Regions from separate parts of the Homo sapiens genome. Here region 1 is linked to region 2. The links come from fine-mapping of genetic effects on gene expression. A gene starts in region 2. The other region holds a variant in brackets. All regions are shown on one strand. Distances are between the middles of the regions. Region 1 overlaps LINC02626 (long intergenic non-protein coding RNA 2626). Region 2 holds the start of ATRNL1 (attractin like 1).

Region 1 (9,446 bases), 93 kb before region 2:
CTGCCTGCCTTTGTACATTTATTTATTTATTTATTTATTTATTTATTTATGAGACAGAGTCTTACTGTATCACCCAGGCTGGAGTTTAGTGGCACCATCTCAGCTCACTGCAACCTCTACCTCCCAGACTCAAGCAATCCTCCCACCTCAGCCTCCCGAGGAGCTGGGACCATAGGCACGTGCCACTATGCCCGGTTAATTTATTGTAATTTTTGTAGAGATGGGGTTTCATCGTGTTGCCCAGGCTAGTCTTGAACTCCTGGACTCAGGCGATTCGCCCGTCTCAGTCTCCCAAAGTGCTGGGATTATAGGCGTGAGCCACCATGCCCAGCCGCTAGCACTCATCTTAATCGTATATTTACTTATCTGGCTTTCCCACCAGACTGCGGGCTCTTCAAGAGTAAATGCCATGTTTTCACCTTTATTTCCCCAGTTTGTGGCACATTCTAGGCACTCGCCATCATGAAATAAACCTCTGGAGCTGTGATATTACAAACGTGAAAAGATGACGAGCACTCAGCAACTTTCAGTGAGTAAACAAAGGCTTTCATTCAGCATGTATTTATTGACTGCCCTGACTCTGGGCTGCCTTCCTGTCTGTGGTTCAAGGAGAGCATAGTCTACAGAACCAGAGACCTGGCTACTCTGGAAGTTAGACTTAAGCCCACCCCGGTCCTTGAATGGGGAAATATTTCCCTTCATTCCTGTGTTTTAGGGACAGAAAGATGAGTAATGCAGTGATACATGCTGGAAATGTTTATTCCACTACCCGAAGCTGCCTCTCAACTTAACAATCCATGAAAGAAACAAGATGGTATATAACTTTTTCTAATTTGTGATGCCTTTGTTTATTTGTTTCCGGTTAAAAGAGGAGGTGGCATTGAATTGTTTGTTTGGTTTGGTTTCTTCTTCAATAAGAAGCATCTTAATATAACTAGACTGGACATCTGTCCCATTTTCAAAAATTACAAGTTTCGATCATTGCTAAATTGTACAGATCCCAATCTGTCTGCTCTGCATACATTTGCATTTATAAAAGCAGAAGCAGACTAGCAGTCTTTCTAATGCAATCCCCCAAATGCATGAAGTATTAGATTGCTTCTCCCTATTGGTTCATGCATTGCTAAAGGCTTAAAAGGATCATTGATTTTAATTATTTAATGTGTACAGCAGGCTGAGCTTCCTTTCTTTTTTAAGGGAAGAACCTTCAGGGGCATTGCTTTAGTTTTTTAATGTTAAATCTCATTTTTCTTTGAAAATAAGAAGTTAAAGCTGTATTCACACAAGCTCTCAAAGTGCCAGATTTTCATTGTGTTTTTAAACCATCTAGGAAATGTTTGATTCTAATGAAACATTACTGCTGAAAATTGGGCTGAAATTGCTGGGCTGAAAATATTGTTATAACTTCACATGATTCCAGTGTTGTATTATTATTTTTTCTTTTTCTTTTTTTGACCCGATATAGATGAAGCGAAGAGACAAGGAGCAATCCAATGTGTAATAAAAAAAGGCAGCCTGAATTGTTGTTGCTGTTTTTGAAATTTAAGCTGGTTTTCAATTAAATTCAGTAAATGGTCCAGGACTATAAATGTTGAACATTTTTTACCGTGTAATTTAAATTTTAGTCTTATTGTTTTTTTTTTGGTTTTTTTTTTTTTTGATGGTTTACATTTTCCCCATGGAAAGCAGCTATGTCATGTCGGCATGATTCATCATGGTAACATCTCGGGTTATTTTGGTTTGTGTTATGTTCAGAAAGCGGAATGCCAAAAATAAAGAGTGGTTTGTGATGTCTAGTGTGTCTTCCTTTAACAAATCAAAGGCTTTTATTTAATCCACTTAATGGGACACTGCAGAAATTTAAAAAATGGAAGTCCCATCCACAGAAGGCAGGTACTATGATGTAAAAAGTTTAGGTGGGGGATTAATAGAGTGATCATATAATTTATGAGCTAAACCGGAGGCACTTTTTTTTTTGAGATCGAGTCTCACTGTTGCCTAGGCTGGAGTGCAGTGACGTGATCACAGCTCACTGCAACCTCCGCCTCCCGGGTTCAAGCGATTCTCATGCCTCAGCCTCCTGAGTAGCTGGGACTATAGGCGCCCACCACCATGCCCAGCTAATTTTTGTGTTTTTTGTAGAGATGGGGTTTCACCATGTTGGCCAGGCTTGTCTCAAACTCCTGACCTCAGGTGATCCGCCCACCTCGACCTCCTAAACTGCTGGGATTACAGGCGTAAGCCACCATGCCTGGCCCAGAGACACTTTTGAGAGTGAAGAGGAAGCTGAGAATAATTCACTGATCTACAACTGGGACCATCCAGGGCAAGCCAGATGCCATTACCACTAGCTAGAAAGCTTGCCAAGGTCTCATTTACCTTGGTATATAGCAAATTCTTCTTTGAATTCTGGAAATTCTGGTAAGTCATTGAGGTAGCTCTGTGCCAAGGAGCAATATGGTAGAATTCTAATATTTCAGGCAGTACAACACTTTCCTGCATTTGTAGCAGGTAAAGGGAGGTCAGGGCAGAAGACAAAACCACTGGGACTCGACAAAGGGCATAAACGTCTAATGCACCTGATGTAGCTGATGGTAAATTGTTATCAGCTAAAGATCTTTCATAATAAATAAACTTATCATTTGTAGGAGGGCACAGAAATCGTGGAAAGCTGGGATTCAGGTTGCCTGTGGCTTTAATTCTGGAATCAGAAATATTAGTCAAGGATATCAGTCTATGAAGTAAGTTTTCAATGTTATATGCCACAAGATGCAGCTGTCCTATTTTCACTTCCAGTAATTCCTTCTGAATTAATACACCTTAAAAATAGCTGCAGCTTCTCAAATCTGTGAGAATCGTATGTGCTGCTTGCTACACTTTCCTTTTTCCTGAAGGCCTCTTTGAGGTCTTTCAAGAACTCAATTCAATTCAGCAACAATTAGGGGGTCTAAGGTATACAGACGCTGTGCAAGATGCTCCTGAGACACAAAGAGGAGGTCAAGCCCCTGCCTTCAGGCACCTCTCTATAATATAGGAGGAGAAAGAGAAGAAACACTAATACACATAGGTAGGTGCCATTAAAAGGGTGCATACATTAAAGCCAGGTGGTAGGTGTAAGAAGATTTGTAACATGAGAATTTTCTGCATGTTTGAAATATCTTATAATTTTTAAAAATTAAAATGGGAGATACATATATATGTATTTATGTATGTATATATGTATGTACATATACACACATATATACATAAATATATACATAAATATGTATATATGTGTATATAGACATAAATATGTATATATGTGTATATAGACATAAATATGTATATATGTGTATATAGACATAAATATGTATATATGTGTATATAGACATAAATATGTATATATGTGTATATAGACATAAATATGTATATATGTGTATATAGACATAAATATGTATATATGTGTATATAGACATAAATATGTATATATGTGTATATAGACATAAATATGTATATATGTGTATATAGACATAAATATGTATATATGTGTATATAGACATAAATATGTATATATGTGTATATAGACATAAATATGTATATATGTGTATATAGACATAAATATGTATATATGTGTATATAGACATAAATATGTATATATGTGTATATAGACATAAATATGTATATATGTGTATATAGACATAAATATGTATATATGTGTATATAGACATAAATATGTATATATGTGTATATAGACATAAATATGTATATATGTGTGTATATAATAATGTGTGTACATATACACACATATATACATACATAAACATTCTGCATTATACCATTCACTTTGTAACCCATCTTCCCTAAAAACTGTCTCATAAAGAGTCTTCTTTTCCCTGTACCTATGCAATGGTAAGTAGCAAAACACACATTCTTTTGGGTCCCCATAACATTCCCTGTAGTTTGCCCTTAACAGTCTTTGATGTGAAATTTACTGTTTCTGTCTTAACCTTGCCTGTCTCGCGTACATGGAGTTTTGGCTCCTGGCTCCTAGTCTGCATCTTCACCCCATCCCTTGCCCAAAGAATCTGGTTATGTGACCACTGCTCATCTTTTCTGCTGCCACAACTCCAGTCCAAGCCACAAACCTCTCTCTCCTGGACTCCTGCGGGGAGTTCCTTTCTCTCCCTGCATGAGTCTATTCTCCGCACAACTGGCAGAGGTAAGTGAGACTGCGGAAGAGGCAAGTTTGCAAGTCCAGAGGAAATGAAGACTCTGCTTGTGCACATGCTGGGTTTGACGGGTGCTGGATATCCGATGGATGGCCCTTAAGGTGAGCTCAAGGCTTAAGGGAGAGATAGGGGCTGATGATCTGAGATTCATCAGTGTGTGGCTGATGTTTAAACCCAGGGGACAGGATAAGAAGGTTATTCCAGGGAGAGCGTAGATAAAGAAGCTAAATGGCTTCTGGGTCCTTAGTCATTCAAAATCGGACCTCTGAGGCAGGAGGAAAGCCCAGAAAGAGTAGATTCCTGGGACTCACGGGATAAAGACTTTCAAAAAGTGGGGGCTGGCCAGTGCTGCTGAAGGAAGTAGCAGGACCGGAACAGAAGGGTAATCGTTGGACCTGGAGAACTTGAATTTGAATTTTAAGGTTGGTAACCTTAAAAAAGAGCAATTTTAGATACCTTTTGAAATTATTTGCAAGATTTGTTTGGTATATGTGTTATTCCAGGCAAAGGGACCAGAAAAGTAAAAAATACTTACTGAACAGTTACTGCATGCCTGGCACTGTAACACCCTGTTTAATTCTCACGGCAACCCTATAGAGTAGGTGTCATCATCCCCATCTTACAGATGAGGATATGAGGTGCAGCTAGATTAAGCAGTTTGCCTCAGGTTACACCAACTGGTTAACGTAGAGCTAGGATTTGAACCCGGATGGGCTGATCCCAGAGCTCATGCTTTAAATCGCTAGACTGGTGCTCACAGAAGACTGGGACCGAAAAAAATTAATAAAAAAAATAAGGAGCCCCCTGGGCTAGCAAATTAGGAGTTGTTCAGACAGATGTGAAAAGGAAAGCAAGGCAGAGGGAAAGTCACTGTACAGAAGAGAGAGACCCATGACAGCAGAGACAGTGAGCTGGTAAAGTGGCTGGCGATCTAGCCCCTGAAAATACCTCCAGAGAGGCAGGCTCACGCCTGTAATCCCAGCACTTTGGGAGGCCGAGGTGGGCAGATCACCTGAGGTCAGGAGTTTGAGACCAGCCTGGCCAATGGCGAAATCCCGTCTCTACTAAAAATACAAAAATTAGCCGAGCATGGTGACAGGCACCTGTAATCCCAGCT[G/A]TTCAGTTGGCTGAGTCAGGAGAATAGCCTGGATCCGGGAAGTGGAGGTTGTAGTAAGCCAAGATTGCGCCACTGCATGCCAGCCTGGGCGACAGAGCAAGACTTTTCTTAAAACAAACAAACAAAAAAGAAAAAAGAAAAGGAAAGAAGAAAGAGACAAAGAAAGAAAGAGAGAAGGAAAGAAAGGAAGGAAGGAAGAGAAGGAAGGAAGGAAAGAAAGAAAAGGAAAGAAAGAAAAAGAAAGAAGAAAGAAAGGAAAGAAAAGAAAGAAAAAGAAAGAAAGAAAATACCTCCAGAGAGCCAGGTCTCTTAGGCCTTCTGAGAAACTCACATCCCTTTTGATGAACACAAATGCTTCACACTCTCAATGTTATTGGTAATCCAAGTTATCAATATACCTAAATCACTTAGTACTGAATCTGGCATATAGTAATCACCTAATGAAGAGATAAGAGTCATGGAGTATTCTGAAGCAATTAGAATCAATAGACTCAATATACACATGGCAACAAAGTTGGATCTTAAAAACCGACCTGAGTGAAAAAGGAAAGGGAAAGATACATAACACGGTACCATTATGTAAATTGATAATATATGCTTACACAATTTGTAAGAACACATACAAATAGATACATGTATATTAAACATACTCGAACGGTTACCCTATGGGGTGGTGGCTGGAGTGGGGGTAAGTCCGTAAGCTGTAATGGAACCTAAACAAATACATGAAACGAGTAGGAATCAGAAGGAGTAACAATAAAAATGTGCCATGAACTGAGGAGTGTAAATTAATCAACTCACTGCATCTGAGGTTAAAAATAGAAAGATGATAATTGTTATTCTTATTACTCCTAGGTCTTCCACTTGCACTCAGCTTTACAATGTTGGACTATCCTTCAGATGGCACCCTCCTTGCACTTGCTCAGGCAGGAGAGCTTTTTCCTCCAGCTTTCTAGGTGATTTAATATATCAGGGAATAAGTATAAAAAAAGGCACGGTGCTCCCTGGGTAGCCTTTCTGGACTTCAGAGCTAAATTGCAAAGTCAGTTTTACACATGTGATTTCATCTATGAAATTAGGGCAAGGTAGAAAACTGGCACAGAAAAAATGTGATTTATTATGGTGTTACTATCCCTTACAAGCGGAGTGTCAGCTGCCTCTTTTTGTCCACTGATTTAAGGCAAGATGAACTGAAAGTGGCTATGATCACGTCTTCAAAAGCACACTCTGGCCCCTCGGCTGCAGGCGCCCTGCACATTCCCCAGCTGCGTGTCCGGTGGTGACACAGTGCATAATTGTGGCGCCTTCCTGGTGCAAACTGTCTCACTTAGCTCCGTCTTGCTGGCACAGCAGAAAGGAAGAAATCGAAAATGTTTGGATTTCAAAGGTAACAAGAAGCTGGAAAACAACTACTGGCCGAGTCTGAGAGTTTCAGCGGAGACTGGTGCAGCCTTGTGTTTTTCCACTGACAGCTGAAAATGAGCCCAGCTTCAGTGAAGCTTGTTTCCTTCCCTCCTCAAGGTTACCCACAATTCTCAGTTCTCTCAGGAAAGCCAAAAAATGAATTTGAGGGTTTAGGATTGTGGTTCTTTTATCTATTACAGGATTGATAATATGTTCCTCCACCAGATGTTCTGCTTGTAACAATACTCACTTCCTGACACTACTGCATATGCAGGAGTGTTACTACCAAGGTAAACACAGAATTGGCTGCCCAATTCCAAATCCCTGAACTGAGTGAGAGAAATCAGAATTATAATAGGGGATTCAACAGAGCTGGCTACGGATGTGCCAGTGGTCAGATACTTTGCTCATCATACGCAGGTGCTGCTGCTCTAGCAACTGCTCACTGCTTCATTTCCTGCCTTGGTCTTTAAATACTGCTTTTCTCAGCTCAATTGGCTTTCTTCCCTCTGGCAGTCACGTTTCTTTGGGTCAAACAGCAAATGATTCTTTAGAATCACCTGGTACTCAAAGGAGCTACAAGACATTGGGCATCCACTTCCACTCTCTTGGAAAAACAATTTTATGGAAGCCAAGGTTGCCATAGTGCCTCTTGAGGTTGTTTGCTCAGCCAAGGCCCAAGCTTTGTGCTTCAAACATGAAATTAGAGAGCTTCAGAACAAGATCCACATTTTCAATGGCCTCACCCAACTGGATAAAAGAACAATTGCCATATCTCAATGACCACCTTTTCTCAGGTGGGATGGTAGATGCTGGAATGGGTCACAGCATTGCCCAACCAAACTTTGCAAAAAAGGCTGGAAGCTCTGACTGGGGACCCTAAATATGCAAAAGTTAATAGGCTCTTCATGCAGAATATGAACCCCGTGTATGGATATAGCTAAAGGGTTGGCCTTTATGTTTCTATTCCTTCACAAACCTGGTAGAATAGATATGCTTGTTTCCCTTTAAAAAATGTCAACAATTGCATTTATGATGCTGTGTATAGTAACTCACAGATCATGCTCCATGAAAATGCTTCAGAACCCAATATAAGGAGATTTTTTAGCCATGTGTGACAAAAGAGAGGCCATTTCAGTGTTGAAATTCTTCAGAGAAGTATTTGATTATGTTTTCTCAGATCTTTTTATTTTTATTTTTTTTGAAACAGAGTCTCACTTTGTCACCCAGGCTGGAGTACAGTGGCTGTGGTCTCGGCTCACTGCAACCTCTGCCTCCCAGGTTCAAGCGATTCTCCTGTCAGCTTCCCGAATAGCTGGGATTACAGGCGCATGCACCACCATGCCTAATTTTTGTATTTTTAGTAGAGACAGAGTTTCGCCATGTTGACCAGGCTTGCCTTGAACTCCTGACTTCAGGTGATCCACCCACCTCAGCCTCCCAAAGCACTGGGATTACAGGCATGAGCCACCGTGCCCAGCCTGTTTTCTCAGATCCTGTATTTTGTTTCTGAAGCCTTCATTTCTATCTTCTTATTCATTTTGGAAGTAGTACACCTAAGTAAGGTTTTTAACAATCAAATATCTTTGGAAAATTCCCTGGTTCCTTTCTTATTCCTACAAAAATATGTTCAGTATAGCTGATGTTATGTTTCTTTCAAATTATTCATTTCTCTATCTCAGAATTTATCTCATGCCTAATTGTTATTGAATAGTCTTCACTTCTTGTCATCCAGTTTCTGGTCTCTTATTTCACTCTAAGTCTAATTGGCTATTAGAATAAAGAGCTTGTAACAGATTCTTTCTCCAATATGTCTTATCTTTTGACTGCATGCCAGTGACAAACTGTTAACTGTTTTGATTCTTCATAACATTCCACAGAACATGCTGACTCCTCTCTTCCTGAAAGCAATGCCCAAGCACAGCATTGTTAGATAGTATGTACGCAACAGGGACATGGGTGCATAGCAAAAACTAGAAGGAAGGAGGACCTTCCTTAGCAATGGGTGATATGGTCCCTGGACTTAGACTCCAAAGGGTCGTGAGGTGAAACACACATCGTCCATACCCAGGAAGCACACAGGTGGGATGGAAGAGCTGTGCCTAATGAAACTTCATCCACGTGGAGGTGGAGGAGGCTGCAGCTGCAAGAACTCAGAGCTGCCTTACCCAGACCAGGGACCAGGGAGGGCTTTCTGGAGGAAACAGCCTCTGAACTGCCAGCTGATAGAGGAGCTCTACCTCAACTCTTCTGGTTCCCCAGGGCTGCTTTTCCACGTCCATTTATTGGCACTGAAGTTTGAATACCTTCAGGGGCCCGAAAGCCTGCCAGGTCCTCTTCTCTGCAGAGCAATCACACCAACCTGCAAAGGGCTAGGAAAGGGCTGTCATCATCTCCTACTCAGAAACTGGTTCACTGGAAGGACTCAGGGGCCACTGAATACATCCTGGCAGCTTTCACAAGAAGGGCTTCTGACTCAAGGATGTTTCCATCTTTGCCAGGTCGCCTTTTCTCCTTCTCTTAGAGTTTGGAGGACGCAAATGTGCTGAGAAGTCAACCTTTCCTGCAAGGTGAGACACAAGGGCCTTTCCCAGCAGAAAGAAGAGAGCAAATGGAAGGTCCTTCTTCCTCCAGTAGAGGATGGACTCTGTCTGGCAGCCACCCAACAGGAAAAGCACAATGCATGCCTGCCTGCTTCCCTCCCTCCCTCCGTTTCT
Region 2 (9,446 bases):
ACTTTGTTTCCTTTAATTTCATTTTCTTTGTTTTGTTTCTATCTTTTATGTCTAGTGAACATTTACTGTCCTTATTTAGGAGAAAATTATGGAAAAAAGGATTAGGCAAAGCTTATTAACTATCAGGCTTCACTGTATAGTGATCCAGAAGCTGGATTTTCATTTGGTTGGAAGATGCCAAATGACAGTATCTTTTGTCTTGGAACCATTAAACGTCTGCAGATAAATATCCTTCAGTTTTCTGTCTGGGGGTTATTCATTTGATTATTGATGTTCTGGGAACCGGAGGAAAAGATGGCAGGGAAATTTTATCATTCATTATGTAGATTTTCACTTAGTCTCTCAAGTTCCAGCTGTATACTTCACTCCCTCCTTCTACCTTGCCTGGTGTTCCAAGTCTGGAGCCTCTGATTCAATTTCTCAAGAGATTAAACCTCTGTCAGGGCTGGGTTTGGGGTAGTGTTTAGCTTCTTGGGATGAGAGGGAGAGTATGGGTCCTTATTCTGCTCTCAACCATTCCCCTTATTTTTATCCTAGAGCCCCACCTCTGCCTTCCTGGTAACTCTTGCATCTGAGTCCTGAGGCTTTCTGGGGATCTTTGGGAGAAACAGATTTGTTTCTTGTTGTTACTTATCTCTGATGGTGTGTATGTTTTAGTTATTACGTCTCAATTCACTTTTCTCCTTCATTGACACTTCCAAATGCCTTGTCACCTCTCATCTGCAAGTTGGCTGTTTTCTCATTTTCTTTATCATTGTGAGTTTATACCTGAAAAAAATTAAAAGAAAAAACAAAAAACAAAAACCTTTCCTATCATGTTGGCAGAGTTTCCAGAGGGAGCAGAGGTAAATGCACATACTTGATCTACTTTGTTTATCAGGAAGCCCTAGCCCATATTTTTATTGAATTAGATTTCACTAAAGACAAGTTTCTGCAATTGGCTATTAGCAATCAACTTTTTTTGGTGACAAGACTGAATATTTAGGATTAAAAGTTTAAGGATGTTCATTTTATTTCCCAGCTAAAAAAGAATGTAGTAGCCCAGCATAGTGAATTTATAATCTTTGGATTTATTTCCTTGGATTTACTTATAACAATATGTTTGAAATGTGTTAAGTAGAAAAATTGGCAGAAGTGTATGTGTGTGTTTGCAACTGTGACAGCAAGGGAAACCGATGGAAGAAAAGAATGAATCCAAGAGAAAGCAGAATGTTAGATTTTGATTGGGACGGTGGTGGTGTTTCAGATCCATAGCCATATAAACATTTTAAATATCATCAATAATTTTTTAATAAGTACCTAAATTTGATGGTTGTTTTTTTAAACTGTCTAACGTTACAGACCATTCATCATCTATTTGTGTCTTAAGAATACTGCCCCAGTTTCGCTGTGGGTCCCTTTGAGTGAATGCATTTCTAGCTTTTGAGGCCACGCTATCTGTAGTTCTCATTATCTTGGTTGCTTTCAGAAGCCTCATATAAGCCAAAGGGTGAACAATAACCAGAGAACAGAGATTCTTAAATTAAGCAACTGAAAAGAGTCTGCTTTGGTTCATTAGCCCAAATAGGATCTTTTACTTTTTGAGTAGCAATCAAAAGATATTGGATCTATCATTTCTCTTGTTCTCTTAAAAAATCACTTAAATTTCCTTTAAACAATCTGGTGATGTGATGTCAGATTTTTGCCCATCATATTATAACATCATTGTTAAGTAGTATGAATGGAAATGAAACATACACCTCAAAATATCTAACGGTCCTGATATAAGGCTAAAGAAAACAAATAGTCTTTTCTTATCTTTCCCCTTGGATGAATTTAAAATAGATAATTCTTAACAGTTTCATCCTACTTCCGTAGGGTGAATTTTCCCCCAGTATGGCTTTGGAGTAAATTTTCACCTTTTTGCTAGATTTATGACTGCTATTACCAATACTATTAATTATTTCAGTATGATATAGCACTTCTAGGAGGCTGACCCTACTTAATTGGAAAAAAAGAAAATATGTTGGAGCTTTAACATTTCTTGATCATAGAAGGTACTGAAACATAACTCATGATTCTAGGCAAACTTTGCCATTGAGTTTTTGTGTGACCATATAAAATAATTTAAGTTTTCTGTGTCTACATTTGTAAAGTATATGACACTCAACTGTATAATGAGCTCACAGTCTAGTGAGCTTGATAGAAGATAAGCTAATCTGGGGTAGAAATCATGCTTTATTCATATTTGTTTTCTCTTGCTTAAATTCATAATAGTTACTCAGTAAGTGTTGACTAAAAGTGTTTGAGAGAGAAACAAAATACAAGGTGAGTGAAAATTCTGAGATCCTTGTGAGAATAATTCATATAAATTTAATATATTCAGCTTGATTCTAAAGGCAATGTTGAGAGGAGGCCCGTGGGGCTGCATGTTCTTCAGTGTAATGTGAAGTACTGAGCTGATTATAGTGGTTATTCAATTAAAAGATATGTATTTTAAAATTATTATTATACTTTAAGTTCTGGGATACATGTGCAGAACGTGCAGGTTTATTACATAGGTATACACGTGCCACGGTGGTTTGCTGCACCCATCATCCCGTCATCTACATTAGGTATTTCTCCTAATGCTATCTCTCCCCTAGCCCCCCACCCCACAACAGGCCCTGGTGTGTGATGTTCCCCTCCCTCTGTCCATGTGTTCTCATTGTTCAACTCCCACTTATGAGTATATTTTTAATGGGCAAGCTCTGCTCAAATACAGGCTACAGTCAGTATGTGACTGAGCTGTGATCTCTCTCGTCAAAGGGACTACAGCGCACCCTTTGAATTACCTTCACACTCACTGACGGTTTTAAGAGTTTGGCCACTTTCCCCACGTCTGAAAGCGACTCTACCTTAGATGTGAGAAAGATGCGGCTGACTTTGGCTGGCAGATGGAGAAGAATGGAAAAGCAGCAGACAGTGTTCATGCATGGCTGACACTAGAAAGAATTCTTCTGGATTTCACAGTCATTGAAATGAAAAGATGTGATCCAGAACAGGATCTTCCTTTTAACTGGTGTCTGCAGTGTTCTCTCCTCTGCTTCTTCACTCATTTCAAGAAGTCTCTAAGGGGCAGCCTGATGTGGAAAAGATGTTAAGGGAAGAAGAGGGCATCCTAATTCTAGGTTTGATAAGGACATTTTTGATACTGGTAAAACCCTGAAATTATGGAAATTATGATTTGTTCTGTATGCCAACGAGAATCGTGGTTTTCCTTTTGCTCTTTTCCTTGCGAAGGAGCCAACTCCTTCTGGATCTTTGTTTTTATTTTTTCCTCCTTAAGTCACTGCTGAGGTATTTTTAAACCAAGCCAACACGTATATTTTATTCACCGAAGGAAGAACAAAGCATCTGCTAATAGAAGCAGTGAAAAAAGCACAGCAGTCAGAGGCCTCGTGTCTAAAGCTCAGTTCATTACTCCTAACCTGCCATTGGCCAATATTTCAACCTTTCTGAGTTGCTCTTTCTCATCTGCAAAATGGGGTTAATGGAGGATTTCATCTGCAAGTGGGGATAAGAGACATGAAAAGAACTGACGCGAAATAAACACGAGTTGAATCCTAACAATAATATTTTGACTATGTAGTTACAACAAACTTTTCTTTCTTCTTTTTTTTTTTTTCTGTGAGAAGTGCCTTTGGTGGATTTTGAATTCTTTTTCATACTGCCTGTTCTTTGGTGGGACTCCAGCAACATTGCTGTAACTCGAGGATATATGGCTGCAATGTGTGTTTGGCTTCCTTTCTCAAGGGGGTCAAATAAAAAGGCAACTGTTTAGAGAAGGCACCAAAGTACAAAACAAAAATCTCAGAATATGCCAGCCAATCTTGGAAAGTCATCTGAAGAAGAAAAAGTGCTGCTGAGGAAGGAAAACGGCCCTTTTGTGGGCATCACTTCTGCTCTTCTGAAAAAAAGCCCCGATGCTGCAATATTTTTCAAGGCAGAATATCGTCCCAGATGGAGGAGGGAGCACTGACAAGCAGAAAAGGAGAGACGTGCGGTTTCGAGGCAGCGTCTGTAAGGGGTGGAGAGCGCGGGGCTCGGAGCCTCGCAGTTCTTTGTTGGGGGCGCGGGCTTCGTTATTCCCGAGGCAGCAATGGCTCCCCCTCGGAGGTCCCTCCGCGGAGACCGCCTCGCGCCTCTCGCAGTCCCCAATCCCCGCCCCTCCCAGCCCTCGCTGACCCCACAACGTGGTCGGACTGCGGTGCCTTTAAGGCTTTTGCCTGCTGCACATGCTCAGCTCTTTGTGTGTTGTTGGAGTTTTTCTCTCTTAAGAGAAAAAGAAGAAATAGGCAGGAGGATGGGGCGGAGGAAGGGGGAAGCGCTAGGGAAAAAGCGTTGCACTTTTGCAGCTGCAGACGGCGGACGGGAAGGACTTCTTTTCTGCTGAAGCTGCGAAGCCTGTGTCGATCTCTCATTCGTGGGGCTCCCGGGGCGCGGGGTGCGGGTGGGGCCGGGGTGCCCGCACCGGCCGGGGGGAAGGGCACGCGGGCCACACCTGGGGGGCCTGTCTCCAGTCAGCGCGCGGGCCAGGCGGGGTGGGCGCGCGCGCGTGGGGGAGTCCCCGGTCCCTGTCAGGGGCGGGGCGAGACCAAGGCGCCGGGCCTGTGGGGAGGAGTGTAGGCGCGCGCGAGGGCGGGGGGCGGCCCCACGCATCGTGGGCTCCCGGCGCTGCCGCTGCGGCCGGCTCGAGGCACCGGAGACAGAATGGCTGCCGGGGCGCCCTTGACCGCCGGGCGGGCGAGGCGGGGCTGACCGCCGCCTCCTTGATCGCCCCCTTCCACGTTGGGCGCGCCCACTTCGGGGCGCCCGCTCGGCCCCCGCCCTCCTGGGCGCGCGGCGCTCGGAGCCGAGGCAGTTGGCGCGGGCCGCGGGCGAGGCGGGGCCGCGCGCGGGGTCCCCTCCTCCTGCCGGTCAGGTCCCCTCAGGAGCGCCGGGCGCAGTCTGCGCCTCCCGCTCCCCGCCTCCGGCCGGGTCCGGGACGCCGCGGCTGTGGGGTCGGCCCGCTAAGGACAAGGTCGGGAGACTGGGTGGCGATGCCCGAGTGCGACTGGAGGCAGCCGAGCGGAGGCGACGGCGGTTGGGATCTGTCCCTCCTGACCGGGGAGCGGGACTCGGACGGGCGCCGGTGAGGAGGAGGAGAAGCGGCGGCGGAGAGGTTTTCTGCGGCCGGAATTCCCTTCAACAGCATCCCTGTCGGCGCCCGCGAGCGCAGTCTCGCCGGGCAGGGGCGCCGGGGAAGATGGAGACTGGGGGCCGGGCCCGCACTGGTACCCCGCAGCCAGCGGCCCCGGGGGTGTGGAGGGCTCGGCCGGCGGGCGGCGGCGGCGGGGGCGCCTCCTCCTGGCTGCTGGACGGGAACAGCTGGCTGCTGTGCTATGGCTTCCTCTACCTGGCGCTCTACGCGCAGGTGTCCCAGTCCAAGCCGTGCGAGAGGACCGGCTCCTGCTTCTCGGGCCGCTGTGTCAACTCCACCTGCCTCTGCGACCCGGGCTGGGTGGGGGACCAGTGCCAGCACTGCCAGGGCAGGTTCAAGTAAGTGCCTTCGCCGGACCCCGAACCTCCAGCCCTGCCTCGCTCCCGTCGCGGCCTTCCCCGCCCCCCTCGCGGCCTCCCCCGCCCCCGTCGCTGCCTCTGATCCCCCGGCCGTGAGTGAACCTCAGCGCGCGGCGGGAGCGGGCGAGAGTGGGGCCCGCGCCGCGCCCCCTCCAGCCCCGGGGCGCCCCGGGAGAGCTCGGGCCCGCGCGGAGCCCTGACCAACGGGGAGCTAGGCATTTCTCGAGCGTTCCAGATGTCCGCAGCGACTTCTGATCCGCTGCTCAGCACGAACATTTTCACAATCAGTTATGATGCCCAGCACCATTTTCTTGGGATAATATTTAAAAATCAGAAATTGTCCAAGTTACTTATGAAATACATGCGCATTGTGAAAAATTCACAAAAGTGTAAAGGTTCAGTTATGATCTATGAGTGCCTCTCTCTTTCCCCATTCTCTTCTCTCTAGAGGTGACCCCTTCTAACATTTATTTAGTCATCATAGTGATGTTAATAAGTAGAGTTTATGATGGACTTGCTAAGTGCCAAACACTCTTCTAAGCGCTTTATGTCAATTTTCTCATTTATTCCCTACAACAACTCTGTGAGTTGCTAGAATTATTATGCTGGATTTACGGAGAGAAATCGAGGCGATACATTGAAGTAACTTGGCCAGGATTACACAGTAGTAAGGGCCGAGTTATGATTCCAAATCAGCTGGCACATTCTGGAGCCAGTACACACTCCAGAATGTGTACTTTTAACGAATTTGCTGTGTTGTATTTGCTAGGACAATCTTGAATTGAGAAATACAAAGGTGACTTTAGGTTAGATAGAAGGACGTTTTTATGTGGTGAGGATAATGGATTTTTTTCTGATCGGTTAATTCACTGTCAGCTTTTGTGCGGGAACATCGCTTTGGCTTGTTTGAAGCTCAAGGAGCCTAAGAAGTTTGCTTGCTAAGGTGAAGGTACTTTCTTCGTACTGGTTGGTGTTTATTACATTCTTGCCTGATATAAAAAGCAATGGGTCACAGTGTAGGGGAGTAGCAAAAGTCACTTAATATTGGGGCAGGCTTCTAACAACATGCAGGTAACAGTCATTAAGAAAGTCAGCTTCTTAGTCTTCTAGATACTTAATATGAAGTTTGCTGGCTGGTTTGTGGCTCTTGAATATTGTAGATTACTGATATTGTTAGGCTGATAGCCAAAATCTAGGTGAAATTTCTCTTGGGCTCTAAGGCAAAGGTAAGACTGGTTCACCTTATTAATGTATTCTAGGACAATTTCCTGGAATTTTAAACACAGCATACTTTCCTTTTTTTTTTTTTTTAAAAAAAAACTTACTATTACTGATTAAAATAAATGTCCCTTAAAACTCAATGTAAAAATGTATATTTTTAAAATGGCACTTTAAAATTTTAGGTAGAGTCTATGATTTAAATTAACTAGTAGGTTTTGGAAGTGAAATCTTAAAGTGAAGTTTTATGAAACTTATGCAATAGGTTGAAATTTTTCTAGGGTTTATACTTTAAAGGTAGTATAGTAATGTAGTTTTAAAAATACTTTTTAAAAAAATTAGGAGAGATGCTGATTAAAAGTTTAAAAAGTGTTTCAAGATGAGGAAAGAGATCTTAATGAATTCTGCTTGTTAGTTGTTTTTTTTTGCTTGTGTTCTTAAACGTTTGCTATGACAGTAGAATTCAGCGTCTTTACCTAGCAAGAGAGAATTTTGAACATGTAAACTGGTAGTCAGCAGTGAAAAAGCCTCATCCATTTTTTACATTTTTTTTACATAAATAGGGAGAGTGCCTGATTTATATGTAGGGATATTGGCTTTTGTGTGGGTGGGTTTGCTCCGTTTGTCTAAAGAGGACAAAATTTGCTGCAGTCCTGAGAAGCTTCATTTTAAAGTAGCGGAACTTGTTAATCAGCTGGATCAGCAGCCTGTGACCTCACTAGCAGATGTTGTCCCAGTTAAAAAGATCACAGATCAAGTTAAAACTAGCTTAAATAACATTGAGAGGTGGTGTTCATAAACAAAATACATTAGTGAGTAGAAGAAGAATAGATATTTGATGTAGATATTGTTAAATAACAATAAATCCTGAGCTAATCACTGAGTATTCATCTTTTCCTTGGAAGCTATTATTTCCTAGGACTCATTGTACTCTATTGGGTAAATGCTTTTGCATTTCTCTGTGGAATACAAGCTATTAATTAGAGTAAATATAACTGGTGTAACGATCTGTGTTTTTATTATGTATACTCTTGGGGATAAAGAACACATTGGTATTTAATGTTAAAGAGAAGGATTATGTATAGTAGAAAAGAATTCTTCTTGGTAAAGTACATGCAAATAAACCTATGAAAGGTTTATTTGAAGATAGTAGCTTGTTTTACCTGGCATTTGAAGTAATAACACAGTGGGAAAGGCTTTAACTAGAAAATCTCACTTCACTAACTATCTTGAAAATCTTTTTCTAAACTGAAGGATAGCAACCTTACAAACAGACATTAAAAATGATTGATCAATCTTGGTAAGCAGGTGTCAAAATTAATTGGTTGGCTCCATGGTAACTTAGCTTTTTTTCTACTATAGGGATTTCGCCAGGGAATAAAAATGTTCTTCAAATGTTTCTTGAGGATAGAAGATTGATAGTTGGGGGAAGAAATGCAGAAGCAAATATAGTATCAAAAGTGGTACTTCAGTTCTCTTAGCATTGATTCCAGTCTTCTGTTTCCATTTGAAAAGAATAAAGCACTCAGAATAACAAGCCATTCCTTCCTTACACAGGTAAAACAAAAGGAACATTGATTTTTCACCCAAAGCTAGACTAAAGGACTTGGGATTGAGAATAGGAAAATATATTTGAAATATAATAATCAAAGATACAGACTCTAATTCAAGTTGTATTTATTTGAATAGTTCAGTGTAATGTTAAGCAAGAAAATATTCTGCTATAATCTATTTGAATGACGTTCTCTTTTAGAAGGGAGCCCTTGAGAATTAATTTTGTAGAGTAGAGATTTATATAAATTTATATAAATATAAAGAGTATTGCTCTTTATATTAGTCAAATATAAAGGGGTATATTTTTACCCCTCTTAGGTTAGTCAAATTTGGATACTTCATTTCACGCATTTAAAATGGAAGTATGCTGGGTGCCGTGGCTCAGGCCTGTAATCCCAGCACTTTGGGAGGCCGAGGTGGAAGGATCCCTTGAGCCCAGAAGTTTGAGACCAGTCTGGGCAAGATAGTGAGACCTCATCTCTACAAAAAATATTTTAAAAGTAGCTGGGCATGGTGGCACACACCTGTGGTCACAGCTACAAGAGAGAGTGAGGCGGAAGAATTCCTTGAGCTCAGGAGGTTGAGGCTGCAGTGAGCTGTAATCACGCCACTGCGCTCCAGCTTGGGTATCAGAGCGAGACTCTTCTTAAAAATTTATATATACATATATGAAGCATTCTATTTGTAGTGACAGCAAAATGAAGATGTAATGATATAATGTCAGGAATTAGGTTGTTATTATAGACAAAAACGGGCAGAATAAAGTGTGTAAACTCTTCCCCTAAGCTGTTAAAAATATATGCATATTGCCTGGCTTGGTGTCTCACGCCTGTAATCCCAACTCTTTGGGAGACCGAGGCGGGCGGATCATGAGGTCAGGAGATCGAGACCATCCTAGCTAACACAGTGAAACCCCGTCTCTACTAAAAATACAAAAATTAGCTGGGTGTGATGGCACGCACCTGTAGTCCCAGTTACTCAGGAGGCTGAGGCAGGAGAATCGCTTGAACCCAGGAGGCGGAGGTTGCAGTGAGCATAGGTCGCGCAACTGCACTCCAGCCTGGGCAACAGAGCGAGACTCCGTCTCAAAACAA

Evidence for each region. PIP is the estimated chance that this variant, and not a neighbour inherited with it, causes the effect.
Region 1: its variant is fine-mapped to the expression of ATRNL1 in skeletal muscle (GTEx, PIP 0.92).

Annotation. Positions count from the first base shown.
Region 1 is chr10:114,995,010-115,004,455 of GRCh38, forward strand. It overlaps LINC02626 (long intergenic non-protein coding RNA 2626), which reads left to right. Exons shown (of 3, transcript NR_120677.1): 2 at 434-529; 3 at 1,466-1,584. Among named protein-coding and RNA genes, the nearest start is that of LINC02626, 5.1 kb to the left of the region's middle. The variant G/A (reference allele first, on the strand shown) is at 5,326.
Region 2 is chr10:115,088,485-115,097,930 of GRCh38, forward strand. It overlaps ATRNL1 (attractin like 1), which reads left to right and starts at 4,881. Exons shown (of 29, transcript NM_207303.4): 1 at 4,881-5,559. The coding sequence starts at 5,267. RefSeq lists silencers at 4,412-4,921, 4,952-5,081, 5,172-5,451.